Homo sapiens: one gene and its partners. The protein of the gene in region 1 interacts with the protein of each later gene in a pairwise test. Each region holds a gene or a part of one and is shown in the gene's direction. Other genes may lie near its edges.

Region 1 (7,450 bases):
CCACCACGCCCAATTTTTTTGTATTTTTAGTAGAGACAGGGTTTCACTGTGTTAGCCAGGATGGTCTAGATCTCCTGACCTCGTGATCCGCCCGCCTCAGCCTCCCAAAGTGCTGGGATTATAGGCATGAGCCACCGTGCCCGGCCTTCCTTAGCATTCATTTATTTACAAATAACGAGAGGTCATACTATCTCATTATTATTACTATTTATTTATTTCATTTTTTGAGACGGAGACTCTGTCTCAAAAAATAAATAAATAAAATAAAAAAATAAAGCCCATGCTTGTCACTCTACCGTGGAGAGGCAACATAGCATAGTGGTTTAGAGAACACACACTGCCTTGGGTTGAATCCTAGTTTTGTTATTTACTTTGTGACTTTAGGTAAATTATCTCATCTTGGCTGGGCATGGTGGCTCACACCTGTAATTCCAGCACTCACGCCTGTAATTCCAGCACTCACGCCTGTAATTACAGCACTCACGCCTGTAATTCCAGCACTGGGCATGGTGGCTCACGCCTGTAATTCCAGCACAAGGCAGGGGATGGCTTGAGCTCACAAGTTCGAGACCAGCCTGGGCAACATAGCGGAAACCTACCTCTACTATAATAAAAATACAAAAGTTAGCCAGGTGTGGTACATGCTACTTGGGAGGCTGAGGTGAAAGGATGGCTTGAGCCTGGGAGAAGGAGGTTGCAGTGAGCCAAGATTGTGCCACTGCTCTCCAGCCTGGGCAATAAAGCCAGACCTTGTCTCAGAAAAAAACCCATCTTTCCTTTTTTTTTTTTTTTTTTTTTTTTGAGACGGCCTCTTACTCTGTCACCAGGCTGGAGTGCAATGGCACAATCTTGGCTCACTGCAACCTCCGCCTCCCAGGTTCAAGTGATTCTCCTGCCTCAGCCTCTCAAGTATCTGGGATTACAGGTGTGTGCCACCACGCCTGGCTAATTTTTTGTATTTTTAGTAGAGAAGGGGTTTCACCGTGTTAGCCAGGATGGTCTCGAACTCCTGACCTCATGATCTGCCCGCCTCAGCCTCCCAAAGTGCTAGGATTACAGGCGTGAGCCACCGTGCCTGGCCAAAAAAAAAACATCTTTCTGAGTCTGTTTTTTGTTTTTTTATTTTTTTTTCTTGAGACAGAGTTTCACTCTTGTTGCCCAGGCTGGAGTGTAATGGCACGATCTCGGGTCACTGTAATCTCCGCCTCCTCGGTTCAAGCAATTCTCCTGCCTCAGCCTCCTGAGTAGCTGAGATTACAGGAGCCTGCAACTATGCCCGGCTAATTTTTATGTTTTTTTAAGCAGAGATAGGGTTTCACCATGTTGGCCAGGCTGGACTCGAACTCCTGACCTCAGGTAATCCACCCGCCTTGGCCTCCCAAAGTGCTAGGATTATAGGTGTGAGCCACCATGCCTGGCCTTGAGTCTGTTTTTTTGTGACTAAAAATAGCTTCTACATCATAGGGATTGTTGTGATGATTAAATATGGATTAATCATACAAAATTCTCTAGCAGGCCGGGCACGGTGGCTCACGCCTGTAATCCCAGCACTTTGGGAGGCCGAGGCAGGTGGATCACCTGAGGTAACAAGTTCGAGATTAGCTTGGCCAACATGATGAAACCCCTTCTCTACTAAAAAATACAAAAATTAGCCCGATGTGGTGGCGGGTGCTTGTAATCCCAGCTACTCGGGAGGCTGAGGCATGAGAACAGCTTGAGCTTGGGAGGCAAAGGTTGCAGTGAGCCAAGATCCCACCACTGCACTCTAGCCTGGCAACAAAGTGAGACCCTGTCTCTCTCACACACACACACACACACACACACACACACACACACACACACACAAGTCTCTAGTGCATATATTATCAATATCAGTAACTGTTATTGTCATTATTACTCTACCTTCTAATAAACATTTAAAGTGAGCTTCACTTTCAGGAATCTAACAGCCCGGGTAGTGGTGGAGCACAAAGTAATCAACAGTGACTCACAGCAGTGGGGATAAATGCTTAATGGGTTAAATACTGTAGCTGGAAGGCAGACAGCAGTGGTCAAAGCAGGCTTTTCTTAGAAGGCAAATCCTGAATCCTGAAAAACTCCTGGGAGTTAGTTTACTAAGTGAAGAGACAGGACATCCTAGGCGGAGACTGGTTGGTGCACAGGCCAAGAGGAGGGTGAAGTCTGGTTTGCAATATGCACAGCTTACCCTCAAGTGGTGGGTGATGAAACTGCACAATAACTACCAGCATTTACATACTCTGCCTTGCCAGGCACCAAAGTAGGTGCTATTGTGATCTCCACTTGAGAGGGGGTTCTAACCCCCCTCCCCGCAAAAAAAGCCAAGGTGGGCGCAGAAGGAAGTCAGACCACTAGCATTTAAGTTGTCCCAGATGGCCGAGTATGTAGCTCACGCCTTTAATCTTAGCACTTTGGGAGGGCGAGGCAGGTGGATCACTTGAGCTCAGGGGTTGGAGACCAGCCTGGCCAATATGGCGAAACCCCGTCTCTACAAAAAATAGAAAAATTAGGCCGGGCGCGGTGGCTCACACCTGTAATCCCAGCACTCTGGGAGGCCAAGGTGGGTGGATCATGAGGTCAGGAGTTCAAGACCAGCCTGGTGAAGATGGTGAAACCCCGTCACTACTAAAACTACAAAAATTAGCCAGGCGCGGTGGCAGCCACCTATAATCCCAGCTACTCGGGCAGGAGAATCGCTTAAACCCGGGGCAGGCAGAGGTTGCAGTGAGCTGAGATTGTGCCACTGCACTCCAGCCTGGGTTACAGAGTGAGATTTTGTCTAAAAAAAAAAAAAAAAAAAAAAAAAAAAGGAGAGAGAGAGAGAAAAGAAAAAGAAAAATTAGCCGGGTGTGGTGGCATGTGCCTGTAGTCCCAGCTACTTGGGAGGCTGAAGTGGGAGGATCGCTTGAGCCCAGGAGGCTGAGGTTGCAGTATGTCAAGATTGCACCACTGCACTCCAGCCTGGGCGACAGAGCCAGATCCTGTCTCAAAAACAAAAATAGCTGGGTGTGGTGGCTCACGCCTGTAATCCCAGCACTTTGGGAGGCCGAGGTGGGTGAATCACCTAAGGTCAGGAGTTCGAGAACAGCCTGACCAATATGGAGAAACCTCATCTCTACTAAAAATACAAAAATGGCTAGGCTCGTTGGCTCACGCTTGTAATCCCAGCACTTTGGGAGGCCGAGGCAGGTGGATCATATGAGGTCAGGAGTTCAAGACCAGCCTGACCAACATGATGAAACCCTGTCTCTACTAAATATACAAAAATTAGCCGGGCATGGTGGCGTGGGACTGTAATCCCAGCTACTCAGGAGGCTGTGGCAGGAGAATCGCATGCACCCAGGAGGCGGAGGTTGCAGTGAGCCGAGACCGCGCCACTGCACTCCAGCCTGGGCGACAGAGCGAGACTCCCTCTTAAAAAAAAAAAAAAAAAAAAAAAAAGCTGGGCATGGTGGTGGGCGCCTGTTATCTCAGCTATCCGGGAGGCTGAGGCAGGAGAAATGCTTGACCCGGGAAGCGGAGGCTGCAGTGAGCAGAGATCGCGCCACTGCACTATTGCACTCCAGTCTGGGCAACAAGAGTGAAACTCCATCTCAAAAATAAAAAATAAAAAAAAAAGTAAGTTGTCCTAGATGGTGGAAGTGTCACGGATTTTTAAGCAGGGAGGTGAAGACAGGACTACATGATTGTGTTTTGCAAAAATCCCTTTGGCAGTCAGGCAGAGGATGGCTCAATTCCCTAAGGAGAATGAGTGGGCCAAAGAGCAAGACATTTCTTCTGCTCCTGGCAAACATTGCCAAAGAACTTCCCAAAGCATTGCGCTAAGGGACCATATTCCTTCTAATTTCTAAGGAGGGTGAGGCAGGATGAAGTTCCGGGAACTGGCTTCATTCCGCCCACGGGTTTCAGAGCCGCACCAGCTTTCTTCCCCACAGCAGCCTGGCGCCTTGGCTTGGTGGGTTGCCTCCCTGTTCCCACCCACGGAAAGTCCTGGCAGCAGGGCCAGAAGTTTTATGGTTCTCAGCGGCACCCGTCGACATCCGCCCCCACGTGACCCAAACAGATCCGGCACTTCCGCTTCCCCTCGGCTTTCTTCTCGTCGGTGTTCCCGGCTGCTATAGAGCCGGGTGAGAGAGCGAGCGCCCGTCGGCGGGTGTCGAGGGCGGGTTGCCTCGCGCTGACCCTTCCCGCCCTCCTTCTCGTCACACACCAGGTCCCCGCGGAAGCCGCGGTGTCGGCGCCATGGCGGAGCTGACGGCTCTTGAGAGTCTCATCGAGATGGGCTTCCCCAGGGGACGCGCGTAAGGGAGTTCCCCAACCCCGGCCTGCGGGTGTGGGGGGTCGCGGACCTGTCTCGGCCTTTGCCCCAGCCTGACCGTCACCATGGCTCGTGGGCGCTATTCATGGTGTTTCTGCCCCCAGGGAGAAGGCTCTGGCCCTCACAGGGAACCAGGGCATCGAGGCTGCGATGGACTGGTAAGCGCTCGTCCCGGGTGGCGGAGAATTGGGGGCTGGCGGGAGGGGCAGCCTCAAAGCTAACCTCCCCGCCCACTTTCCCTGCCAGGCTGATGGAGCACGAAGACGACCCCGATGTGGACGAGCCTTTAGAGACTCCCCTTGGACATATCCTGGGACGGGAGCCCACTTCCTCAGAGCAAGGCGGCCTTGAAGGTCCTGACTGAGGGTCCACGGTGTGATTATTCAGGAGGGTCCGAGGAGAATCTGAAGGGATAATAATACCGATTGTTTGTTTGTAGGATCTGGTTCTGCTGCCGGAGAAGGCAAACCCGCTTTGAGTGAAGAGGAAAGACAGGAACAAACTAAGAGGTACAGTAACAACAATCTCACGTGTCTGAGGGTCGTCTTCCATCTCTCCCCAGTACACGTCTGGTCAAAGAACCTTGACCTTTCCACATTTCCTCTTTCTTGGCATTTTCTTTTCCTTTAATCTACTTTGGGATATATGTCGCCTAATTTTGTTTATTGTAAACTTTACACCTTCCCACTCTGTCCATTTCTCTTGAACTGTTTTCCCTCGGCAACACAGGATGTTGGAGCTGGTGGCCCAGAAGCAGCGGGAGCGTGAAGAAAGAGAGGAACGGGAGGCATTGGAACGGGAACGGCAGCGCAGGAGACAAGGGCAAGAGTTGTCAGCAGCACGACAGCGGCTACAGGAAGATGAGATGCGCCGGGCTGCTGAGGAGAGGCGGAGGGAAAAGGCCGAGGAGTTAGCAGCCAGGTCTGGGCAGGGGAAATGATGGATAGCAGATGAGAAAGAAATCAAGATTTGCTTTGTTGATGTCTGACCTAATTTCTTCTTGTCTACATTTCAGACAAAGAGTTAGAGAAAAGATCGAGAGGGACAAAGCAGAGAGAGCCAAGAAGGTAGGTGACTGAGAAGACGCCACGGGTAATGGAGTGGGCAGGTTAGTAAATCTTTTCCAGCTTCAGAGGGAAAGCATGGGCTTATATGATCTGTTTCACCTGAGGATGGGTGAGTACCTGATTGACTGTTTTACTTTGCCCTTTAGTATGGTGGCAGTGTGGGCTCTCAGCCACCCCCAGTGGCACCAGAGCCAGGTCCTGTTCCCTCTTCTCCCAGCCAGGAGCCTCCCACCAAGCGGGAGTATGACCAGTGTCGCATACAGGTACTGATTCTAATTCTTATCTTCCTCTTGGGACCCCTTTGTTCCGTGTTAAGGTGCCCAGCTCAGAGCTTTTTTCAGTTAACGTGCCCTTTGCCAAATCTCTCCCTTCTTTGTAAATGACTTTTGAAATCCTATCTCTACTCTTGGGAAAGGTATCAAATTTCACCTGCCCCAGTTGTATTTAAACCCATACCTCTCTCTTACTCAGCAGTTACCCTTTTACTTGTTCATGTTTTTATTTGGTTTATTATGTAGCTATCTGGTGATGTGGTATTTATCCAGATTCTTTTGTATAATCTTATCCTTGTCTTTCTTAGGTTGTGAGGGAGCTGGGAGTCTCTCATCCGCACTTAGTAAAGCGGAGCCTAAGTGGCTGTTCATTTGGTGCTTTAAATAGTAGTTGTGCTGGTTCAATCTAAGAAGAAGGGGGCCCAGCTTTAGCTCTTTTCCTTACTTGGGCACCTCATTCAGTTTTGATGCCCACAATACTGAGTATCTCCCTTGCCCTTTAGGTCAGGCTGCCAGATGGGACCTCACTGACCCAGACGTTCCGGGCCCGGGAACAGCTGGCAGCTGTGAGGCTCTATGTGGAGCTCCACCGTGGGGAGGAACTAGGTGGGGGCCAGGACCCTGTGCAATTGCTCAGTGGCTTCCCCAGACGGGCCTTCTCAGAAGCTGACATGGAGCGGCCTCTGCAGGAGCTGGGTATGGCTGCAAGACTAGAAACCAGGACTAGAAACTGGGGGAGTAGGGAGGCATGCCTAGGAAAAGGAGGGATGCAAAGAGAAGGGGCTTTGTGAACATGGTGCAAGGCCAGGAATTTTGGGAGCAAAAACCAAGTATCCTTGTGGTTCAAGCCTGTTTTCTTCCATCTTCAGGACTCGTGCCTTCTGCTGTTCTCATTGTGGCCAAGAAATGTCCCAGCTGAGGGCCTTTGTCCCATTGTCCCTCTGTGACCCCTTCATCTTTGATAAAGCACTGACATCTCCTTCCTAATAAATAGACCCTGAGTTCTGTACATGCCTGACTCCTTCCTGAATGGCTGGGAGGGACAAAACTAAGGCAGAGGAAGAGGCTAAAACGGAACAGTAGACCCTCTTCCTCATCTTTAGTTTCCAACAAAGACACTTGTTTGTAATCTCTGGGTCTGATTAACTGCTGGGGAAGTTGCGGAGGAGAGGTGCTAAAAGGGGTGGAGAGTACATTGGATGGCACCTTTTACTCCTATGGTAAGACAGAAAATAAAAGCCCAGCTGCTGCTTTTTTATTTTTATTTTTGAGACGGAGTCTTGCACTGTTGCCTGGGCTAGAGTGCAGTGGCGCAATCTCAGCTCACTGCAACCTCTGCCTCCCAGGTTCAAGCGATTCTCCTGCCTCAGCCTCCCTAGTAGCTGGGATTACAGGCACCCACCACCACGCCCAGCTAATTTTTTCCATTTTTAGTAGAGACGGGGTTTTGCCATGTTGGCTAGGCTGGTCTCAAACTCCTGACCTTGTGATTCGCCTGCCTTGGCCTCCCAAAGTGCTGGGATTACAGGCATGAGCCACCACGCCCGGCCTGCTGCTTTATTTATTTATTTATTTATTTATTTATTGAGAACATGAGAGTGCCTTTTCATTTTAAAAATGTTTGGAAATATGCACAACTTTGATACAGCTTTGGGGTGCTCCAGACACCCATGGCCACTTCATGTAAACCACTGAGAATTTCTTTTTTTTTTTTTTTTTTGAAATGGAGTCTTGCTCTGTCACCCAAGCTGGAGTGCAGTGGCACAGTATTGGCT
Region 2 (7,000 bases), on another chromosome or scaffold:
TTGTAGAGATGGGGTTTTGCCATGTTGCCCACAGTCTTGAACTCCTGGGTTCATTCTGCTGAAAGAGACCACACCTGTCCTTTTCTTTATTTTTATTATATTTTTCAGAGACAGGGCCTTGCCCTGTTGCTCAGGCTAGAGTGCAATGGTACAATCATAACTTGCTGCAGCCTGGAACTCCTCCTGGGCTCAAGCGATCCTACCGTCTCACCTTCCGGAATAGCTGAGACTAAGGGCAGGCACCACCACGCTTGGCTAATTTTTTTTTTTTTTTTTTTTTTTTTGCTTTTTGTTTGTAAAGATGGAAACTTGCTATGTTGCTCAGCTGGTTCCGAAGTTTTGGCCTCAAGCAATCCTCCTGCCTCGGCCTCCGGAAGCACTGGGATTACAGGCATAAGCCACCAGGCCTGACGCCAGGCCTGTCTTTTTTCTACTAGTGATATGAACAATTTAGTTAGCAAGACAGATAGGAAGCAAGGAAGGGGAGACCCAGAGAATTCGTTGCATTCTAAACTAGTCCACTCATCTACCAAAGCCCTGTGAAGGACATTTTTAGCAGTTTTAGCAGTTTTCTGGTCAAAACTTTGATCGAGAAACAGATTGAGTGGATTCGATATTCTCTTGCTCACCCAGCCACGCCAGTTTGTCTCCTCTGCCTCCTAGTGCAGCTGTCCAGGCCTGGGACACCAGGCGGGTATGTGCGCATGTGGGGCAGGGCGGAGGTGGTGTGTGTACTTGTTATATTTAGCCACCTCCCTCTGTTCTCCCCCACTGATCCTGGCTGGAAAGGCTGGGCTTCCGGAAAAGAGAGGTGGATTTGCACACCTGGATCCCAAGCTGATAGAAAGTGGGGTGAAGACAAAGGGGACTCAGACTGGGGTGTCTGTCCTCTTCTATGCCCACAGTAGGAGGAGCCAGGATTGGTTACTCCCTGCTGGGTCTGCTGTGCTCAGAGTGAGGTAGAGAAGTGGGTAGAGTAAAGAATTTGGGAGAGGAAAAAAGGCATTTTCCCAACCCCTCCCACCAAAGCCTAGAGAGAAGGTGTTGTCTGGTTTAATGTTTAATTAGAGCTCAGAGTTCAGGGCCAGATTTGGAGTTGGGATGGAAAGTTGTTTTTAAGACCCTGTAGCAATTTTTGACCCAGCCTGGGTACCTCAACCACACTCAGGAGTTTGGGGGACCTTCTGTTGGGCTGGATTATAGGCTCCAAGAAGAAACCCCTTTCGCCAATACTCTCTCTCTCTTCTTTTTTTGAGACAGGGTCTTGTTCTGTTGCCCAGGCTGGGGTGCAGTGGCATGATCACAGCTCACTGCAACGTCAGCCTCACAGGCTCTGGTGATTCTCCCACCTCAGCCTCCTGAGTAGCTGGGATTACAAGTGTGTGCCACCATGCCCAGCTAATTTTTTTTTTCTTTTTTTTTTTTTGAGACGGAGTCTTGTTCTGTTGCCAGGCTGGAGTGCAGTGGTGCGATCTCGGCTCATTGCAACCTCCACCTCCCAGGTTCAAGCGATTCTCCTGCCTCAGCCTCCCGAGTAGCTGGGACTACAGGCACATGCCATCACGCCCAGTTAATTTTTGTATTTTTAGTAGAGTTGGGGTTTCACCATGTTGGCCAGGATGGTCTTGATCTCTTGACCTCGTGATCCGTCCACCTTGGCCTCCCAAAGTGCTGGGATTACAGGTGTGAGCCACCGTACCCGGCCACTAATTTTTATATATTTTGTAGAGATGGGGTTTCACCGTGTTGCCCAAGCTGGTCTCGAACTCCTAGGCTCAAGTAATCCACCTGCCTTGGCCTTGGCCTCCCAAAGTGCTGGGATGTATAGGCATGAGCTACCGCACCTGGTACCCCCTGCCCCTTCTCTGTCTCTTTCTAGTCTGTAGCCCAAGGGATTTGGATACCCAAGTGCAGGCAGAATGGGAAGGTTGTAAGCACCAGGGAAGCCTGTCTGGAGTCCAGGCTTGCAGCTGGGCCCCACCCCAGGCAAGGCAGCTGGGTGGATGACTCAGATGCTGCCCCCCTCCCTCCCACCCTGGTGGCTTTACAGAAGACAGCAGGAGACAGGGTGGAGACAGCAGTTGTCTTAAAGGGAGGAGTGGTGGTCTGAATGTCTACCTCTTCTGCCCCCCTCCCCATTGCATCCTGGAGTCCCTTGCCTGGCTCCTTCCTGAGACCCTCTGGTGGTGTCTGGACACATAGCTCTCTCTGGACAGGTAACATGCACAAGTAATTAGAATCCAGAGTTGAGTTCAGAGTTATGGATTGGGCTGCAGGATAGTGCCAGGGTCTGTGCCTTCCCATGTGAAACTGATGGAGGAAGGCTGAGTCAGAAGTGGGGAGATCCGAGGCCCACAAAGCAGAAGCGCTACTTCCACTCCAAAAAGGCCCTGGTGCTTGACAACTTCCTGGATTGCCCACTGTTGCAGCCCCAGTGTGGACAGGCAGGGAGATGCAGGCTCCAGTTCATGTAGGCTCTGATCAAGACAAGAACAGCAAAGGCCACAGAGGCACAGATGCTTGTCCCATGTCACACAATAAAGGGGTCAGCACTTGATCACAGGCCTTATGACTTCCAGCTGGGTGTGCTCTTACCATTAAGCCTCACTTCTCTAGCTTGGGGGACAGGTTGGAGGGAGGATCTAGAGGGTGAGGTAAGGTGAAGTCAGGTAGCTGAGGCTCACTTCTGCAGCCTGGAAACTCTGCTCTGGGGCCAGTGACACCTTAGTGCTCTATGGCCATACTTCGTGGCTCATGCCTGTAATCCCAGTGCTTTGGGAGGCTAAGGCAGGAGGATCACTTGAGGCCAGGAGTTTGAGACCAGTCTGGGCAACATAGCAAGACCCCCTTCTGTACAAAAAAATTAGCCGGTCAACACCTGTAGTCCAGCTGCTTGGGAAGCTGAGGCGGGAGGATCACCTGAAGCCAGGAGTTTGAGGCTATTGTGAGCTATGACTGCACTACTGCACTCTAGCCTGGGAGAGAGAAAGACCCTGTCTCTGAAAAAGAAAAAAACAAAACAAAACTCTGCTGTCCTGCAGGGCCTGTTAGCATATGATCGATAGCCTTTGCTCCAGCCTATACCTGGACCCAGGACCCCTGCCAGCCCCTCAATCGTGAGACGGTCAGAGCTCTGGGAGGCTGGTGATTCTTGTCTTGAGACTATCTTGAGACTTGTCATGGGAATTGTCCACCCGGATTGAAAGGAAGCTGTGCCTTTTGGCAGACCCATTAGGTTAATGGGGTTGGAGACCTTTGAGGATGCATGGGCCCTGGGCTTTATCTGAGGGTATCTCCTGGTGTTACCTCTCCAACCCTCCACCACCAAATCCATTCTTTTTTTTTTTTTTTTTTTTTTTTTGACAGTCTCGCTCCCTGGCCCAGGCTGGAGTGCAGTGGCATGATCTTGGCTTACTGCAATCTCCACCTCCCAGGCTCAAGTGATCCTCCCACCTCAGCCTCCCAAGAAGCTGGGACTATAGGCACGTGCCACATGCTCGGCTAATTTTTCTATTTTTAGTAGAGACCAGGTTTCACCATGTTACTCAGGCTGGTCTTGAACTCTGGGGCTTAAGCAGTCCACCCACCTTGACCTCCCAAAGTGCTGAGAGCCACTGAGCCTAGCCCAAATCCACGTTCTGATTCAAAGGGAAAGAAGAAGGGTGCAGCTAAACCTGGGGGGTGAGAAGTACTTAAAAAGCCCAAGAGAAACAAAAGAGAGAATAATTCCTCACTAGGACCCCCTATTGCCTTCCCACTATTGGTGCCCTTGCTTGGCACTTCCCCTGGCCTCCAGGAGTCTGAGACTTACTCTTCCATGGATGTGCCCATTGCCCCCACTTCCAGGTCCACCCCCCAGTGATTCGGTAGCTTAGTGTCTGCGCTGAAGCCCAGGACAGCTGGATGGACAACTGGTAGATCCCTTCACCTACCAACTGTGCTTTCTGCTCCCCTCCCCCTTGCTTCCCTCCTCCCCAGCCCCTCGCCACCCCTAGCAGCTGCAGCAGCCAAGACCAAGTCTTCAGAGACCCAGACACAAGGGCAGGGTTCATTCCATTCTCACCTCCTTGGGGTCCCAGTGTACTGATAGGCCGAACTCTAATATTATAGGAGATCTCTGGAAGATTGCAGGGTCTCTTATCCCTCAATAAGGGGCAAGGCAAGCCGGGCGCAGTGGCTCACGCCTGTAATCCCAGCACTTTGAGAAGCCGAGGGGAACAGATCACTTCAGGTCAGGAGTTAAGAGACCAGCCTGGCCAACATGGTGAAACCCTGTCTCTACTAAAAATACAAAAATTAACCAGAAATCGCTTGAACCCAGGAGGCAGATGTTGCAGTGAGCCGAGATCACGCCACTGCACTCCAGCCAGGGCGACAGAGCAAGATTCCGTCTCAAAAAAATAATACTAATAATAAATAAATAAATAAGGGGCAAGGTAGTCCACCAACAAAATGACAGGCAGTGTGATATAGTGGACACCCTAGCCCTCGGTGCCCTTAGTTCTGTGTGTGGCCCTTTCACTAAATTGCTGTGTGACCTTGAGCAAATCGCCTCCCCTTTCTGGCTTTCCTTAGCTGTAAAAGAAAGGGATTGGAGCGGAAAGTCTCCAGAGACCTTTTAGGTTCCAAAGTAGTACAGTGACCCACAAAGTGAGAAAACAGTCTTCTAAAATACCAAGTTATTAATAGTAAAATCAAATATAAATAATGTGAATATAGTTAATAGCTAATGTTGTTCTCAATAGAAATGTTTCCCACAAGCTGTGGAATTAAACATACTACCACATTTCTCTATTTCCCCGTGAAAGTTTGTTAGAAATGGTTAAATTGTGACATTACCCTCTTGGCAAATGTTTTGTTTTCATTGCTACTAGGAAAGGGCAACTCGTTTTCGATGCCTCTCCCTTCTGGACGGTGGAAAGGGCTGTGTCATAGAGTAGGAACGGGAGATGCGGCACAGGAATGGCTCCCATTGACCCGGGTTGGGGGCTAGGGCGAAGGCCTAGGAGAGGCAGAACTGTTACCTTAGAGCTGGCCAGGATTAGAGAACAGTGCCTGGAACCGGGGGGAGGGGCACGGTGACCTTGGGCTGCCCACCTTCTACCCTTCCAGCACCCATACTGGCTCCCCCAACCTGCGGCTGGGCTGGGAGGAGGTCTTGGCCCCTACCAATCCCTTAAGGAAGGGGAAAGAGTTTGGGAAGGGGAGTCCTCCCTTCACCCCTGCCTCCCCCAAGTTGTGAGAGAGGAAGCCGGAATCCTGCCTGCTGAAGCCAGGAATAATTCTGGCTGAGATCCCAGGCCCGGCAGGGGCGCTGAGTCATGGTAGAGGGCAGAGTGGAGAGTGGACAGGAGACCCTAAGCTTGTCCAGTCAGAAAAGCAGAGGCTGAGGGGTGGCCTTTTCTTGAGAACTACATTCAAGTTGCAGCAAGAAGGACAGTGGTCTGAATTTGACGGGGACAAATGGAAGGGAGATAGGACACATGAGTTCCTTTAGGTCTGGCTCAGGGGAGCTAGACTTCATTTCAAGGGGTCTAGGTTCTGGGCAGTTGAGAAGGAGGCTATTTGGGGTCACCAAGGCTCCCCTTTCTTCCCAAAGCTCTAACACTGCCACCTTCTGCTGGCTAGGAGAGAGCTGTGTCTTCTGAGGCTAGAGCTGGAATGCAGTGAGACCAGACTGCCTAGGTCCTCCCTCACTTCTTCTCCTGACCTTGGGGTGTGGCTCCCACTCTCTCCCAGTGTCCTCAGGGTTAATAACTATGTGCCACCAGATAGAGAGTTAAGGGGCTGCTGAATTGGCTTCTTGTGAAGGGAATCCCCTAAATGTCCCTCGTTTTGGTCACTGGCCTCCCTCCCGCCCCCTTCAGGACATTCTACTATCTTCTTAGGCCATCCCTCCCTCCTCCAGGCACTACTTCTTTTGCTCTATCCCCAAGCCCCACCCCTGCATTTTTGTGACAACACCGGAATGATTTCTAGAGAGAGAGGCCAGGAAGAAGGAAAGTGGCACTTGGCAGGAGACCTTGCAGGGGGCGGCTGGTGAGGAAGCCAGCCGCCCATTGTCCAGGACCCCAGTGCCCTGGCCTCCGGCCTCAGGCTTCTCCTGCCTCTGTACAATGCCACGTTGATACGCCCAGCAGCTGTGACTCAGGCCTGGCCCCCTGCCAGGCCCAGCACTTCTACTGGAGTTGCGTCTGAACATGTCAACAGGCTTCCTATCCCTCTCTCAGCACCAGTTCTCCCCACTTCAGCCCCTCCCTCTGCCTGGAATTAAAACCTGGCTTTGTCTTAGGGAAGGACAGCTGGGAGCCTAGTGGCTCTGGTAGGGGATCTGAGAGGCCTCAGACCCTAGGCATATTTGGCTGTTTGGCAGGTGTCACGCCCAAGGGAAGCGTGTGGAAGCAGAGCCATGCCTGCTGTGGGTGCACATGCCCGCGTGAGGGAGTCGGGGTGTTTCATCCTGGGGCACCTGTGGGCTTTTGAGGTGTATGATATTCAGAACTTCACAGGTTGGGGTTTGGGGAAGGCTCAAGGGGCTTCTAAGTCCCTGGAACAGCTGCCCCCCTCAGTTCCTCTCTCTCTCTCTCTTTTTTTTTGAGATGGAGTCTCGCTCTGTTGCCCAGGCTAGAATGCAGTGGCGCGATCTTGGCTCACTGCAAACTCCGCCTCCTGGGTTCAAGTGATTCTCCTGCCTCAGCCTCCCAAGTAGCTGGGACTATAGGTGCCCGCCACCATGCCTGGCTAATTTTTGTATTTTTAGTAGAAATGGGGTTTCACCATGCTGGCCAGGATGGTCTCAAACTCCTGACCTCGTGATCCACCCACCTTGGCCTCCCAAAGTGCTGGGATTACAGGCGTGAGCCACTGCGCCCAGCCTCAGTTCCTCTCTTTAAGGTCTCCTTTCCAGAGAGGGATAGCACCTCAAATGCCAGGGAGGGGAATTCTCCACATCCTGCCCTTACCCGAGTTGTGGCAGACCCACAGACTAGCCAAGAAACCA
Region 3 (7,634 bases), on another chromosome or scaffold:
TAAAAAATATTGACTTTAAAAGTACATACTATAGCTCTAGATTCTTATGATGGTAAATATTTAACTTGGAAATTGTATAAAATACATGTTTCTCTGTTCTTTGTCAATAACTTCTCTATTAAATAGTTGACATAATAGAGTAGCATGTGCTGAAGTCAGCACAGTGCTGTAATCAGCAATTAATAACATGCTAATATTTCTCATATTCACAAACACAGATTATTTTTACTATGGATCATTCAGGTGTGATAATGTTAATGTATTATGGCAATGACTTCTAAAATCAGTTTATTTTTCCTTACAGTGATGGCATTATTAGAGTGTTTACAGAATCAGAAGATCGAACAGCAAGTGCTGAAGAAATCAAGGCTTTTGAAAAAGAACTGTCTCACGCAACCATTGATTCTAAAACTGGCGATTTAGGGGACATCAATGCTGAGCAGCTTCCTGGGAGGGAACATCTTAATGAACCTGGTAAGTATTTTATTGTACCTAGTAGAAAAAATTCACCATATTTGGCTTTTGGAACAATTAGAAGAAAAATAAATGTTGTTTTGCTTGTGTTTTTCATTGCTAGATGCTGATTTTTGAGGATTTTTACTATTACATATAATCACTATGAGAAACCATGTTCTTGCCTCTGTCTCACAGAAGACTTTGAATTAAGCTTCTCATAAACAGGAATTAAAAAATAAATCTCCCAACACTTAGATCATTTACAGTAGACACTCAAAAGGCACTCATTTAATACTTTTTGGTTGATTGGATTCTCTGAGAGGGGTTACAAACTGAATATTAAAATGAGTTTAAATACGAAATTAGCCAGGTGTGATGGCATGCGCTTGTAGTCCCAGCTACTCAGGAGGCTGAGGTGGGAGGATGGTTTGAGCCCAGAAGGTTGAGGCTGCGGTGAGCCGACACCACACCATTGCATTCCAGCCTGGGTGACAGAGTGTGACTCTGTCTCAAAAAAAAAAAAAAATGAGTTAAAATCAAGCATTGTCTGTGTAATGAGTTGGGAATCATTCGAGTTTGAAATCAGAAGACCGTAGTCATCTCAAATGAAATCTTGGGTTGGATGTATCTCTTGATTGCATTATTATACCAGTGCTTCTCAAAGCTTGATTCATGGACCTCTGGGGATTCTGAGATCCTTTCAGGATGTCCATGAGGTCAAAACTAATTTTTGTAATACTAGATATTATTTGAATGTTGTACATTGTATTAATGTTTGCACTTATGGTGCAAAAACAATGGTGGGTAAAACCACTGGTTCACTAGTATGTAAATCAAGCCAGGGGCTTTAAACCATTCTGGTAAGTTACTATGTTCTACTTGCATGCAGTTGTAGTTTAAAAAAAAAAAACAATAAAAACAAAAAAAAACAGTTTGCCATTAAGCATGTCCTTGATGAGGTATTAATATTAAGAATTATCAGTTTTATTACATTTTGACACATCTTTTTAAATATTCCGGGTGAGAAAACCTAAAGTAGACATAAAGTAAGTCAAAATACTGTGGTGTCTCAAAGAAAAGAACATGCGCAGTCATTTGAGTTGCAGGCTAAACTACCAGTTTTTTCATGGAGTGCTATTTTTATTTGAAAGAATGACTACGGTTATTCAGGCTTTGGTATTTGGCAGACGTTTTTTGAAAATGAACAAATTGAGCATGTTCCGTCAAGGAAAATAACTGATAATATATGTTGCCAAAGATAAAATTCAAGTGTTTGAGTGAAAATTGAAATGTAGGAAAAATGTATCTCCACCAGGAACTTAGTAGCTTCCCATTTGTATTGATACTAGTGGTAATAACATTAACAAATGCCATTTTTTAATATTGAATAATAAACTGTATGAATATGCAGAAGATCTGCGTAAGTTATTGAACCATTATTTTCCATATGACTAGTATCTGATACCATCTCAGACATGGGTAAAAGATCCATTCAAAGTACAAGATAGACCAGTGGATTTTAGTATAATAGAGCATGAAAAATTCATTGATGTGGTTTCAGATTGTACACTGTAGCGTTTAAAAAACTAGTATTTCTGGCCTATCCACATTTTCTGAAAAGACTTGTCTTCTCTTTTTCAACTACCTACGTGTGTTAGGCTGGATTTTCTTTTTGTAGTCAACCAAAATAACAAATTGAAACAGATTAAGATGGGGTAAGAGGGGAGATTAAAGTATGATGGACTAGGCCAGAACTGGCATATATCACATCCACCCAGATTCCACTGACCATTACTCAGTAATGTGACATCATGTGACTGCCCAATGCAAGGGGACTAGATAATGTAGTCTCTGGCTAGACAACTACAGCTGTATCTAATGGAAGAAGAGCATGATTCTTCGGAGGATGGATAGCTGTCTCCGCCACTGAAGGCCTTGTTGAGAACATGACATTTGTGTAAAGTTGTTAAAGAGGGAAAGGAGCAAATACTGCCAATATCTGTGTGAAGAGCATCATAGGCAGAATAAACAGCTAATACAAAGGCTCTGTGGCTGAAGTTGGGAGATGAGGGGACAGGGGGAATAGTAGAAAGTAAGGTCATGTAGGATAGTGTGGACAATTTATATTTGGTCTTGTACACTACTCAAGAGTTTAGGCTTTTACCAAGTGAGATGAAAAGCATTGATGGGTTTCAAGCAGAAGAGTGTCAGGACCTACTTAAACTTTTGAAAAAATTCCTGAAGTTGCTGGGTGGAATATACACTGTCGGGGGCCAAGAGTACAGGAAAGAGGCCGTTGAATCAACCCAACTGAGAAATGATGGTGGCTTGGACCAAGGGATGATGATGGAGATATTAAGGAGACAGTTTTCTAGATATATTTTAAAGAATGAGCTGATAGCAGTAGCTGAAGGGGGTGCTGAGAAGTAGCCGAAGGAGCGATGGGGTTGAGAGAAAGGTATCAGGCTTTTCTACTTTTCAGTTTGAGCCACTGGATTAATGGAGAGCCATTTACGGAATGAAATGTGTTAGGAAGATATATTCACTAATAAAACTTGTTTTATTTTTGATGGGCCAGTTGCTTCCTAGTAGAATCACGTTTTGTTAACCTTCCTTTGATTAATAATATTTCCTTTTAACTGTTATTTTCTTTTGGCCACATTTTTAAATCTTTTATTTGATACAATTTTATTTTGAAACAAAATCCATATTCTCTTATGTGTAAATTTTAATGTTAAGAATTTTCTATTTAAATGTTTTTCAATTTTACATTGCCATTCTACCTTTGATTCTTAAAATTTTTATTTTAAGGTACTAGAGAAGGACAGACTCGTCTAATCAGAGATGGGGAGAAAGTCGAAGCCTATCAGTGGAGTGTTAGTGAAGGGAGGTGGATAAAAATTGGTGATGTTGTTGGCTCATCTGGTGCTAATCAGCAAACATCTGGAAAAGTTTTATATGAAGGGAAAGTATGTCGACTTCTACTTTCTAATTACTATTGTCTTAAATATTAGGCAAATTAAAGGTTTCCTTTGCCCCATAGTGATAAAATTTCCTTTGTTTTGACATTTAAAAATCCATTACTGTGGGAAACTAATCTTTTTTTTCCCTGTCTTGAAATAGATATTTTAAAAGTATCTTTCCATGTAGTGAGAGCTGCATTTGAGAGACAAATTAGCAATTGTCTGTCATGTAGTAGTTTCTATACAAAAGCTGTTCCCAGCCATTTTGGATTGGGAGCTTCTGTGCCACCTTTCATCAAATGCCTCATGCCTGGCTATATTTAACTTGACAAGACATGAGAGACCCTGCAGGGCAGTGCTTAAAATGCCAGCACGTTTTGGTGAGTAGGGCACAGTAACAGCTGATAATTTTGATCTTGATATCAAACCAGTTGGAAACTCTGCTTTGGCTCTAGAGTTAATATGTAGTTGTAATCCATCCTTCATCCTCACCCCCATCCCCTAATGAAATACTAATTTTGCATCACATGCAGATGGGGGCTGTTAATCTTTATCTGCCAAAAACGAAGATTTTAGCACTGCACTTTGGAGAAAGTTTAAGTACTGTAATTATTAAAGAACACATCTGTGTTATGTTGTATATGTCATTAATATATGTGAACAGATAATAAGCATGTATCTCCTTTTTATATTCCTACTTTAGGAATTTGATTATGTTTTCTCAATTGATGTCAATGAAGGTGGACCATCATATAAATTGCCATATAATACCAGTGATGACCCTTGGTTAACTGCATACAACTTCTTACAGAAGAATGATTTGAATCCTATGTTTCTGGATCAAGTAGCTAAATTTATTATTGATAACACAAAAGGTCAAATGTTGGGACTTGGGAATCCCAGCTTTTCAGATCCATTTACAGGTAAGTTAGTGTTTATATTGAGTCTTATGTAGTTCCATTAGTGTTGATTGATTTTTTTGATGTTTTCAAATAGTCATGTGATTAGCTTTTTCAATAAATACCAATATCTACAGCAGGGTTTTACTTCACATTCATATGTTTAAGCCTCAAATGATGAAGTAATTCTGTATTTTACAGAAATAATAGTAAATTGTTGTCTTTCAAAAATACAATCATACTATAATGGAATTTCAGTTATTTGAAACAAAAATAAACTTGTAAGTTCTTTTATATAGTGTTTCTTTTAAAAAATTATATTTTGGCAAAATTTAGTAAATCTTTTTTTCACATGAGGCTAAATTGGTCAGTCATGCATCAAATCTAAAAGTGAACCCTATGGGTAGTTTTAGTTTATATGTGATGTGTATTCTACACGTTCATTTTAAGTTAATTGTTTGTAACATCGTATACATCGTATCTCATGTTATAAATGCAGTTAGGTGCTCATACCAGTCTGTAAATTGTAATCCTAATGGTACTAGTCCAAATTCTGGCCCCTAGGAAGTGGAATCTAATCCTAGTAATATTAACGTGAGTTCTGGAGACTGGTGTAGGAGGAAATAAAATGCCTCCTCTAAATAACATTTTGAGATAGGCACTTTACTGTTAATGTTTTCCTCTCATCATTTCTGACTCAACATTTTTCAGGTGCTAGTGCTCTTCCTTGTTTTACGAGGACTTTGTATTATATTCCTGTCTCAAATCCTTATGTAGATCCACCTTTTCTTCCCTGACAGCTACTCCACATTCCCAAATTATCTCCTCATTCTACTTCAAAATTTCATTGCCCATTCATAAAATAAAACTAATGTTACCTGCATGTTGATTTAAATAGAATTATCAGGCCAGGTGTGGTGGCTGACGCCTGTAATCCCAGCACTTTGGGAGGCCAAGGCAGGCAGATCACAAGGTCAGGAGTTCAAGACCAGTCTGGCCAACATAGCGAAACCCTGTCTCTACTAAAAAAAAAAAAAAAAAAAAATACAAAAAATTAGCCAGGTGTGATGGATGTGCGCCTGTAATCCCAGCTCCTTGGAAAACTGAGGCAGGAGAATCACGTGAACCTGGGAGGCAGAGGTGGCAGCGAGCCAAGATCGCACCATTGCACTCCAACCTGGGCGATAGTGCAAGATTCCGTCTGAAAAAAATCAAAAAATTTTAAAAAAAATTATCAAAGTAACTTACTACTGAATTACAGATGATCTGATCCTCCAAATACTTGCACTTAAAAAGAAAATAATTGTTTAGTATGTGGATATTTTTGTTGTTGGAATTTCAGACTGTAGTTCAAGAGTGAACACAGATTGTAGTACTGTGTAAGCTATTTTGCATGTGGGATACAGGAAAGGAATTAAAGCAGCTGACTTTGTCTGGAAATCTAGGAAGCACTTGGCTTGTTTTGCCCTTCTGAGACTCTTAACTTTTTCAGCATCCTTACTGTTTTTTGTTTTTTGTTTTTTGTTTTTTTTGTGGACAACCTGATTATTTCCCTAGAGGTACTAACAAAACATAGGCACATACGCCACACATTCGTAAATGTATAAATGGAAGTCTCTTTCCTTTGTAGTTTTCATCCCTTTTCTAATTCTCTTCTCCAGTAGGTTGTAAGCTTCAGTGGATATAAGCAATTTTGTTCCCTTCTGGATCCCCAGCCCTGAGTCCATTGTTTGACACATGAATTAATGAACCTAGAGCTCTAAATGATTAACATTTAGTGCCTGTGGTTTTGATAACAATAACAACAGCAGGAACTCTTGTGAATTTGTATAGGAACAGGGACAGGAATTGATTGTATGTTTATATATTTAGGTCAGATATTACCTGCAATTCTCTTTTGATATTTGAATTAAGTTTTAATATTTAAGTGCTGGGGCTAAGGTATAATAAAGCATTAAAGTTAAGAAAACAAAACTTGGAGAATCATTAAAATTTCAGTTTTTTCCCAGTTATAAGACTTCTGACTATAGTTTCTGTCATTCTATCATGTGAAAGTTTTGCTCTTCTGTTTTTCTCCAAATGTAGGTTCTTCTAAAACAAGCATTGTGCTGTTTGAAAAATTCAGAACTTTGGTGCACTTCTGCCTTTTCTTTATTTTGCATGCACAGGTGGTGGTCGGTATGTTCCGGGCTCTTCGGGATCTTCTAACACACTACCCACAGCAGATCCTTTTACAGGTGGGATGTAGTTTTGATTCATGTATCTTTCTTCACTAAATGTATAGCATCTTGCATCACATGGCTTTACATCTTGGAGATGTCATCCAGTAATTGGTAATTCCCTTATCTGCATTTCCAATTTTGATGGATTTCCTTTTCTTTAACTTCTGATTTTTGCTTTTTCCTGGAGTGGTTGTGTAGATTCCCTCGTGACTTTTAAATAGCATATTATTAGAATTCATTGTTTTCTCCAGGGGTCCTTCCCACCAGGAGAGCAGTATAGTTAAGAATATAGGTTTTAGAGTCAGACAAACCTTGGTTCAAAATTGGGCTCTACCACTTACTTGCTATGAGAAGTTGGCAAGTTACCTAACCTGTCTGAGCCTATTTTTTTTATCTGTGAAATTAGATAATAGGGGAACCCACCAACCAAGACACAGCATGAGTGCTATCACTGGCGAGATGCTACCAATCACGAGCAGAGAAGGAGCCATGTGAGCCCTGATATTGGATGGAGCAGTACAATCAAGAAGTCTCCCCAGGCATATTTTGACTTAACATGGAAGGAGACATTCCACCCAACTACCCAGGAGTAGTCTTCCTAATCTAAGTTATTAATGTCCTTCTTGAAGCCCTTGAAGTGTTGGTGTATCTCTTCAAAATGAATTTATTTACCAAGGTATGCATGCCTCAGCATCAACACTACTGGAAAAAGTGCCAGAGTTGGACTTTAAGGCAGCTGAAGAAGTCTCTATTTTCAGAATGGCTTTTGATATCTTGTATAATGCTGTTGTTGGATCTTCAGACAGAGTTCCTCGACAGTATACTCAGTTTGGGAAGAGATCATAGCGTTTAGGTATCCACTGGCCTTGCAGACTGGTACTGTGAGCTATAAAAATGACAACCTACAGTCCTCTCTAAGTCATAGAGATTGGACAAACATACAACGTTAGGTCAGCATCATGAAGTTGTGGATTGCTGTCCGTGAGCTTCCTTTTTCCTGTGAATTTATTGATGGCCCAGATGGAAATGGTTGTACCATGTGCATTGATAACAAGTAAATGAAAATAATTAACTATCACACTAAATGCTGTTAT
Region 4 (7,776 bases), on another chromosome or scaffold:
CAGGAGGTCGAGGCTGCAGTGAGTTGTGATTGCACCACTGTGCTCCAGCCTGGGTGACAGAATGAAACCCTGTCTGAAGGAAAAAAAAAAAAAAGTGATGAGACAGAATGAGACCTCAAGAGTTCAAGCACTGCTTGGGGCTTGTCTAAAGTTCTGACAGGAGGCAGGGAGGCAGTGCCAGCAGAGCAGGCTGAGCAGTGGCCAGCGAGGGAGGAAGACGGACGTGAGGGAGGAGCGCTTCCAGGATAGGGAGGTCACATCTGCTCAATGCCGTTGAGAGGTCAAGGAAAATGACTTCTGACAACAGATTATCGGATTTAGCAACTTGGAAGGAATTAGTGACCTTGATAGATTGACTGGTAGAATCAAAAACCAAACTGGAACAGGTTCAAAGGAGGATGGGAGGTGAGGGGAGAGGGTGTGTGTGTAAGCAGCTCTTTTGAGATGTTTTGCTGAAAGCAGGGATAGAAATGGCCCATAGCTTGAGGAGCAAGTAGAAAATAGCCTAACACGAGAAGGTGAGACTGTGGAAGGTGCAAAATCAGTGTAAATCCATTAGCACTATGGCCAAAATCATTCACAAGGTTTTTGCTGAGGAATTGGGCGCCCCCATTGCCATCCTTAAAAACAGGGCAACATCATAAGTAGTAATCTGGAGCACTATTTTCTTTCTACAGTGCAGAATGGGTACATGATAATCTCTGGGCTGAGCTGTTATCTTTTCTGGGTCCCTCTACCACCTTCGGGGTAGTGATGTGAGCAGGAGGGACAGATGCTGTCTCAGGTGGAAGGGTAGCCACACCCTTTCCCAAAAGTATAGGAACTGTTCCAGATCACTTTTTGGCCTCACTCTGGAGGGCCCAGGCTATTTCATTCTAAACCACTTGGCCCATCCTTGTCTAAGATTCCCTCTGGTTCAGTGTGTGGCTGGAATCTGGCTTTTTGTGTCCCTGATTTGTGTCCCAAGCAGCATTTGAACTTTTTTTTTTTTTAAGAGACAGAGTCTATGTTGCCCAGGCTGGAGTGCAGTGGCTGTTTACAGGAGCCATCAGAGGGCACTGCAGCCTCAAACTCCTAGGTTCAGGGGATCCTCTTGCCTCAGCCTCCTGGGATTATGGGTGCAAGCCCCCATGCCAGGCAGATTTAGAAGATTTTGAACAATGAAGTGTCTGTAATGCTCAGAGGAGCAAGCACACCTATACAGGGAGCATGGGGTCTTAGTAAATTCTTGCTGCACTCATAGCTGGGGGAAGAGCAGTATAGAGAAACAGAAGGTTTGAGGAGGGAAGAGGAAGAAAGGCCCTACCTCAGCCTGCCAAGTAGTCCTCACAACGGTCAGGAAAGTATTTATCACCCCCATATCATAGGTAAAGAAACTGCCAGGCTGGGAACAGTGATGCACACCTGTAATCATAGCACTTTGAGAGGCTAAGGCAGGTGGATCACTTGAGCCCAGGAGTTCAAGACCAGCTTGGGCAATGTGGTGAGGCTCCTTCTATACAGAAAAGTACAAAAATTAGCTGAGCATGGTGGCACATGCCTGTGGCTCCAGCTACTCAGGAGGCTGAGGTGGGAGGGCTGCTTGAGCTCTGGAGGCAGAAGCTGCAGTGAGCAGGGATTGTGCCACTGTACTCCAGCCTGGGTGACAGAGCCAAGACTCTGTCTCAAAAGATTTAAAAAAAAAAAAAAAAAAAAAAAGGAAACTACCTTGCCTGAGGCTCTAAATCTAGTTACTGCTTCCAACCATTTCAGGATTCAATTGGGAAGAGGTGGTGTTTGAACAGGCTTGGGGGCCCTTGATGCTTGCATCAACTTAATTCTCACTAAAAAACAAAAGTCTGCGTCCGGACGAGGTGGCTCAGGCCTGTAATCCCAGCACTTTGGGAGGCTGGGGTGGGTGGATCACCTGAGGTCAGGAGTTCAAGACCAGCTTGGCCAACATGGTGAAACCCTATCTGTGAGAGGTGACAGCATGCTGGCAGTCCTCACAGCTCTCGCTCGCTCTCAGCGCCTCCTCTGCCTGGGCTCCCACTTTGGCGGCACTTGAGGAGCCCTTCAGCCTGCCGCTGCACTGTGGGAGCCCCTTTCTGGGCTGGCCAAGGCCGGACCCGGCTCCCTCAGCTTGCGGTGTGGTGTGGAGGGAGAGTCGTGGGCGGAACCGGAGCTGCGAGCGGTGCTTGCGGGCCAGGGCGAGTTCCAGGTGGGCGTGGGCTCGGCGGGCCTCGCACTCGGAGCCGCGGCCGTCCCCGCCGGCCCCGGGCAGTGAGGGGCTTAGCACCTGGGTCAGCAGCTGCTGTGCTCAATTTCTCGCAGGGCCTTAGCTGCCTTCCCCCGGGGCAGGGCTCGGGACCCGCAGCCCGCCATGCCTGAGCCTCCCCCCACTCCATGGGCTCCTGTGCGGCCCGAGCCTCCCCAATGAGCACCGCCCCCTGCTCCACGGCACCCAGTGCCATCGACCACCCAAGGGCTGAGGAGTGTGGGCACACAGTGCGGGACTAGCAGGCAGCTCCACCTGCAGCCCCAGTGCGGGACCCACTGGGTGAAGCCAGCTGGGCTCCTGAGTCTGGTGGGGACATGGAGAACCTTTATGTCTAGCTAAGGGATTGTAAATACACCAATCGGCACTCTGTATCTAGCTCAAGGTTTGTAAACACACCAATCAGCACCCTGTGTCTAGCTCAGGGTTTGTGAATGCACCAATCAACACTCTGTATCTAACTACGCTGGTGGGGACTTGGAGAACCTTTGTGTCGACACTCTATCTAGCTAATCTGGTGGGGACATGGAGAACCTTTGTGTCTAGCTCAGGGATTGTAAACACACCAATCAGCACCCTGTCAAAACAGACCACTCTGCTCTACCAATCAGCAGGATGTGGGTAGGGCTAGATGAGAGAATAAAAGCAGGCTGCCCGAGCCAGCAGTGGCAACCCACTCTGGTCCCCTTCCACGCTGTAGGAGTGTTGTTCTTTCGCTCTTTGGGTCCACACTGCCTTTATGAGCCGTTAACATTCACTGTGAAGGTCTGCAGCTTCACTCCTGAGCCAGGGAGACCACGAACCCACCAGAAGGAAGAAACTCCAGATGCGCCACCTTAAGAGCTGTAACACTCACCACGAGGGTCCGCGGCTTCATTCTTGAAGTCGGTGAGACCAAGAACCCACCAATTCTGGACACATCTGTACTAAAAATACAAAAATAAGCCAAACGTGGTGGTGCATGCCTATGGTCCCAGCTACTCAGTGTGGTTGAGGCAGGAGAATTGCTTGAAACTGGATGGCAGAGGTTACAGTGAGCTATCACACCACTGCATTCCAGCCTGGGCGACAGAACGAGACTCTATATCAAAAAAAGAAAACAGGCCAGGCGTGGTGGCTCACGCCTGTAATCCCACCACTTTGGGAGGCAGAGGCGGGCAGATCACAAGGTCAGGAGATCAAGACCATCCTGGCTAACACAGTGAAACCCCGTCTCTACTAAAAATACAAAAAATTAGCCGGGCGTGGTGGCAGGCGCCTGTAGTCCCAGCTACTTGGGAGGCTGAGGCAGGAGAATGGCGTGAACCTGGGAGGCGGAGCTTGCAGTGAGCTGAGATTGCACCACTGCACTCCAGCCTGGGCAACAGAGCAAGACTCCGTCTCAAAAAAAAAAAAAAAAAAAGAAAACAGAAAAACAAAATTCTTAGTATAAAAGTCTTGAAATCACAGAGTTCTGACTTTGACTGCCCCTGCTTCTGGGAGCTACAGATCATGCTGTGGGCTGCCTCCACGGTCTGGTAACTCAAGGGTGACCGGGGTGAGGCACAGTTCCTTCAGAGCTACCTAGCTGAGTGTAAATGGGTTGTTCAAATTGCACTAGGGAGCCGGAGTTGCGTGGGTTTTAATTTAAAGATGTAAGTACAAATCTATGTGCATTGTAGAAAATTCGGAAAAGGTCCAACTGCCTAGCAAGTAAAAAGCTGTCATTCCAGCACGTGGGGGGTGACCGCTTCTCCCTTCTTGGGTGTTTTTTGGTGGATTTTTTTTGGTGACCCCGACTGGCCTAGACTCCATTCAAGGGCACATCTTGTGCAGTAAAACACGCATGTTTCAGGGCTCCTCACTGCAACACGTGCACCTCCAGGCTGGCGCTCAGCGCTCCCAGTAAAAGCTGCAGGCGGCGGTGTAGATAGTCGCCGGCCTTTCCTCCTCCCCACCTCGTGACGCTTTGTGCTGCGGAAGCAAAGGCCCGTTCCATTCCCCGTGTCTTCCCAGCAGCCGCCACCAATGCTCCTTTCTAGGAAACAGCCTTCCATTCTCTCTTAGGGCCGATCTTAGCGAGAGCCGCGATGCGGGCGACTGGTGCCGGGGTGGGTTGGGGGCGGGGGTGGGAATCAGGCCCCACTGCCAGGAGCCCGGGCCGCGCCTTCCGCTCTGACCTCATCCGGCCGCCCAGGCACTGGGCGCGGCAGCGAATCGGCGGCGCGGGCGGCCGGGAACGCCCAGCACAAATATTTACCGCCGCGCGGAGAGTGAGGGCCCAAGTCCGCCCTGCTCCGCCACTTAGGCCGCCCCAGACGCTTCCCTCGGGGCTGCCACCGGGTCGGGCGCGGCTGCCGCGGCTAGCGGGCCTTCCCCGCACCGGCGCGGCCCAACCGCCACCGAACCTTCTGGAAGCGGCGGCTGCCTGGGCCCCCACGCCGCCAGAATCGTACGCCCGCGCGAGCTCTCTGCAGCCTTGGCGGCCTGGGAGGCGGGGCTCGGGGTGGGGCCGGCGCGGGGGCGGGGTCGGCGCGGGGAGGCCGCGTTCGATTGCCCCCGGCGCGCAGGCCCCGCCTCACCAGCCCCATCGCTCCACCTCTGCCCTCCCCCTTTATGGCGCGGCCCGGGCTCATTCATTCCGCGCCGGGCCTGCCAGACACCTGCGCCCTTCTGCAGCCGCCCGCCGCATCCGCCGCCGCAGCCCCCAGCATGTCGGGCCCAGACGTCGAGACGCCGTCCGCCATCCAGATCTGCCGGTAAGAGAGGGCCCGCGCGCAGCCTGCAGCGGCCAGGCGCGCCGGTCACCGCCCCAGGCCTGCCCCGCTTGGCTCTGTGGTCCCCACCCGCCGAGGCCGCCCCCGCCCGCCGATTCCCCGCACGGCCTTCCGCGCCGCCGCCCCGGACGCCCGCCCGGCCGGGATGCGACTCGCGATGCCGCACAAGCCGGGCGGCCCCCGCCCGCCTCCAGCCGGCTCCTCCTGGCCGCATCTCCAGGGCGGCGGCCGCGCCACGGGCCGTTTGGGCGAGAAAGCCAGGCAGGGACGGGGCGGGCGGAGGTCAATGCACAGCTCCAGAGCCCGGCGACCGGCGCCCGTGGGCCGCCCCGCCTCGGGCCTCGCCCGAGCATCCCGGAGCCTCAGCCCCGTGGTCCTGCTTAGCCTCCTCGAGGATTCGGGATCATTACCTCGGCGGTTGTGCTGCGCTAACCAAAGCCCCCAGAGGTGGAGGGGAGGTGCCCAGAGCCGCGCGAGCCCCTCGGTGGGTGCCCCTGTGGGAGGAGGTTGCAGAGCTACCGTCTTCAGTGCACTGCTTCGGTTTGGGGGAGGGCAGGTGTTGAAAGGAAGAACAGATAATACTGTCTACCTCTAACAGTTTACTATGAAGAAAAGGGAATCAGTGGTCTGTTGGGCCTGAAAGCATCTTACACAATAGAGGCAAAGGGTTGTCCTTCTAGAGCACCCCCTCTTCTTCCACCAGGTACTGAGTAGATAGATGCAGGCCCCCAGAGGAAGCTGGAGGCTGGAGATCATGAACAAGCTCATTTCCCATAGGAGGTGGGGAGGGCAGCCTGAAGGTTACTCTGCAGTTCTCTTCGGCAGAATCGGAAGCAGCAGGCTGGCATTTGTGCATGAGCTAAGTGAGGACAAGGAGTCTAGGTTTTCAGCCACTGCACACAGGCTCTGTGGCCTGCGACCGGTCCTATCCTGCTTGATGAACTACCAGGAGTGAGAGCTGCTTTCTGTTTTGGTAGTGGGTTCCTCACATTTGGGGGTTGGGCATCACAGACTGACCTTGGGCTCAAGCCAAGTCCAATAGAAGCAAGTTACTTTCCTGTAGATGTTGACATCTCCAGGAAGGCTGGGCATATAGCAAGTCCTGGGTCTATGGCGATTCTTGACTCTCAGTCTCATCTTCTGGCCTGGTCGAGGGCCTCTCCTTACCTCAAGGTCGGTTTTGACTTTTCCAGAGGGGGAACGTCTTTGGGGGAGCCCTGCCCCTTTGACTTTGGCTCTGTGGCTGTTCTGGTCCCATCGACTCTGGAGGTGGGGAAAGCGGGGCAAAAAAAAAAAAGGAAATAACTGGAGACAGACAGCCTGCATCAGGTTCCTGAATCAGCTCTGCTGAGTATTGGCTGGGAAACTTGGGCTCCATGGTTTGCAAAGAGCTTATACCTGTCTCATCCCACTTGGTTTGCCCAATTCCCTGGGAGGTTGATGGTCGGTAGTGCCACCCTTACCTGTGTGGAGGAGGAAATGGCAGTTTTGGGAGTTGAGTAACTGTGTAAGGTCATCCTGCTCCAGGAGATCCAGGGACAGCCCCTGCCCAAGTCTTCTGACTCCAGATCCAGTATTCTTCCCACCCCTCTCCTGAATAAAGGAAACCTTGATTTAAATCTTCCCGTGGAAGGCTGGCCTTTTATTTACTTCTTCAGGGTGGTGAATAGCCAATTTATACATGTTGTCTTTTTTCACCCAGCTTCTAACAGTTACTAGATTTTTTGTTTTTTGAGACAGAGTCTCACTCTGTCACCCGGGCTGGAGTGCAGTGGCCCGATCTCAGCTCACTGCAACCCCTGCCTCCTGGGCTCAAGTGATTCTTGGGCCTCAGCCTCCCGAGTAGCTGGGACTACAAGAGTGCGCCACCACGCCTGGCTAATTTTTGTGTTTTTAGTAGAGATGGGGTTTCTCCATGTTGGCCAGGCTGGTCTCGAACTCCTGACCTCAGGTGATCTGTGATCTGCCCTCCTCGGCCTCCCAAAGTGCTGGGATTACAGGTGTGAACCACCGCACCCAGCTGGAAAAAGTTCTTGTGCCTCAGCCTCCTGAGTAGCTGGGACTACAGGCGTGCGCCACCACGCCCAGCTAATTTTTGTATTTTTAGTAGAGATGGGGTTTCATCATGTTGGCCAGGCTGGTCTTGAACTCCTGACCTCAGGTGATCCTCCCGCCTCAGCCTCTCAAAGTGCTGGGATTACAGGCGTGAGCCACTGCTCCTAGCCTAGTTACTAGATTTTTGTATAGCTTTAGACACTTCCATACAGTAAGTGTGTGCTTTTTGTTTGTTTGTTTGTTTGTTTTTGAGACAGTCTCGCTCTGTCACCCAGACTGGAATGCAATGGCACGATCTCAGCTCACTGCAACCTCTGCCTCCTGGGTTCAAGCGATTCTTCCACCTCAGCCTCCTGAGTTGCTGGGATTATAGGTACCCGCCATCATGTCTGGCTAATTTTTGTATTTTTAGTAGAGACGGGGTTTCACCATGTTGGCCAGGCTGGTCTTGAACTCCTGACCTCAGGTGATCTGCCCGCCTCGGCCTCCCAAAGTGCTGGGATTACAGGCGTGAGCCACTGCGCCTGGCCCGTGTGTGTGCTTTTTCTTACCCACTGTAAACCAAGTCTGCTATCTCAGGTTCACAATTGCATATTGTTTCTTTATTTTTTGGAGATGGAGTCTCACTCTGTCACCCAGGCTGGAGTGCGGTGACACACTCTCGGCTAACTGCAACCTCTGCCTCCTTTGTTCAAGTGATTCTCCTGT

What was found.
Region 2: the proteins of UBXN1 (region 1) and LMNA interact in binary tests that used the Homo sapiens proteins (3 or more experiments, as listed by UniProt).
Region 3: the proteins of UBXN1 (region 1) and PLAA interact in binary tests that used the Homo sapiens proteins (3 or more experiments, as listed by UniProt).
Region 4: the proteins of UBXN1 (region 1) and ACOT7 interact in binary tests that used the Homo sapiens proteins (3 or more experiments, as listed by UniProt).

What each region holds. Positions count from the first base shown.
Region 1 is NC_000011.10:62,675,734-62,683,183, reverse strand, and holds UBXN1 (UBX domain-containing protein 1), read left to right. Parts: upstream 1-4,110; 5' UTR 4,111-4,260; coding exon 4,261-4,319; intron 4,320-4,440; coding exon 4,441-4,494; intron 4,495-4,582; coding exon 4,583-4,689; intron 4,690-4,775; coding exon 4,776-4,845; intron 4,846-5,065; coding exon 5,066-5,257; intron 5,258-5,351; coding exon 5,352-5,403; intron 5,404-5,549; coding exon 5,550-5,666; intron 5,667-6,178; coding exon 6,179-6,371; coding exon of another isoform or gene 6,372-6,466; exon of another isoform or gene 6,467-6,544; coding exon 6,545-6,594; 3' UTR 6,595-6,684; downstream 6,685-7,450.
Region 2 is NC_000001.11:156,117,711-156,124,710, forward strand, and holds part of LMNA (lamin), read left to right. Parts: intron 1-7,000.
Region 3 is NC_000009.12:26,916,018-26,923,651, reverse strand, and holds part of PLAA (phospholipase A-2-activating protein), read left to right. Parts: intron 1-304; coding exon 305-474; intron 475-3,267; coding exon 3,268-3,425; intron 3,426-4,122; coding exon 4,123-4,342; intron 4,343-6,403; coding exon of another isoform or gene 6,404-6,486; coding exon 6,487-6,555; intron 6,556-6,946; coding exon of another isoform or gene 6,947-7,035; exon of another isoform or gene 7,036-7,634. UniProt on the Homo sapiens protein: Plays a role in protein ubiquitination, sorting and degradation through its association with VCP. Involved in ubiquitin-mediated membrane proteins trafficking to late endosomes in an ESCRT-dependent manner, and hence plays a role in synaptic vesicle recycling.
Region 4 is NC_000001.11:6,390,476-6,398,251, reverse strand, and holds the start of ACOT7 (cytosolic acyl coenzyme A thioester hydrolase), read left to right. Parts: upstream 1-4,484; 5' UTR 4,485-4,852; coding exon 4,853-4,995; intron 4,996-7,776. UniProt on the Homo sapiens protein: Catalyzes the hydrolysis of acyl-CoAs into free fatty acids and coenzyme A (CoASH), regulating their respective intracellular levels.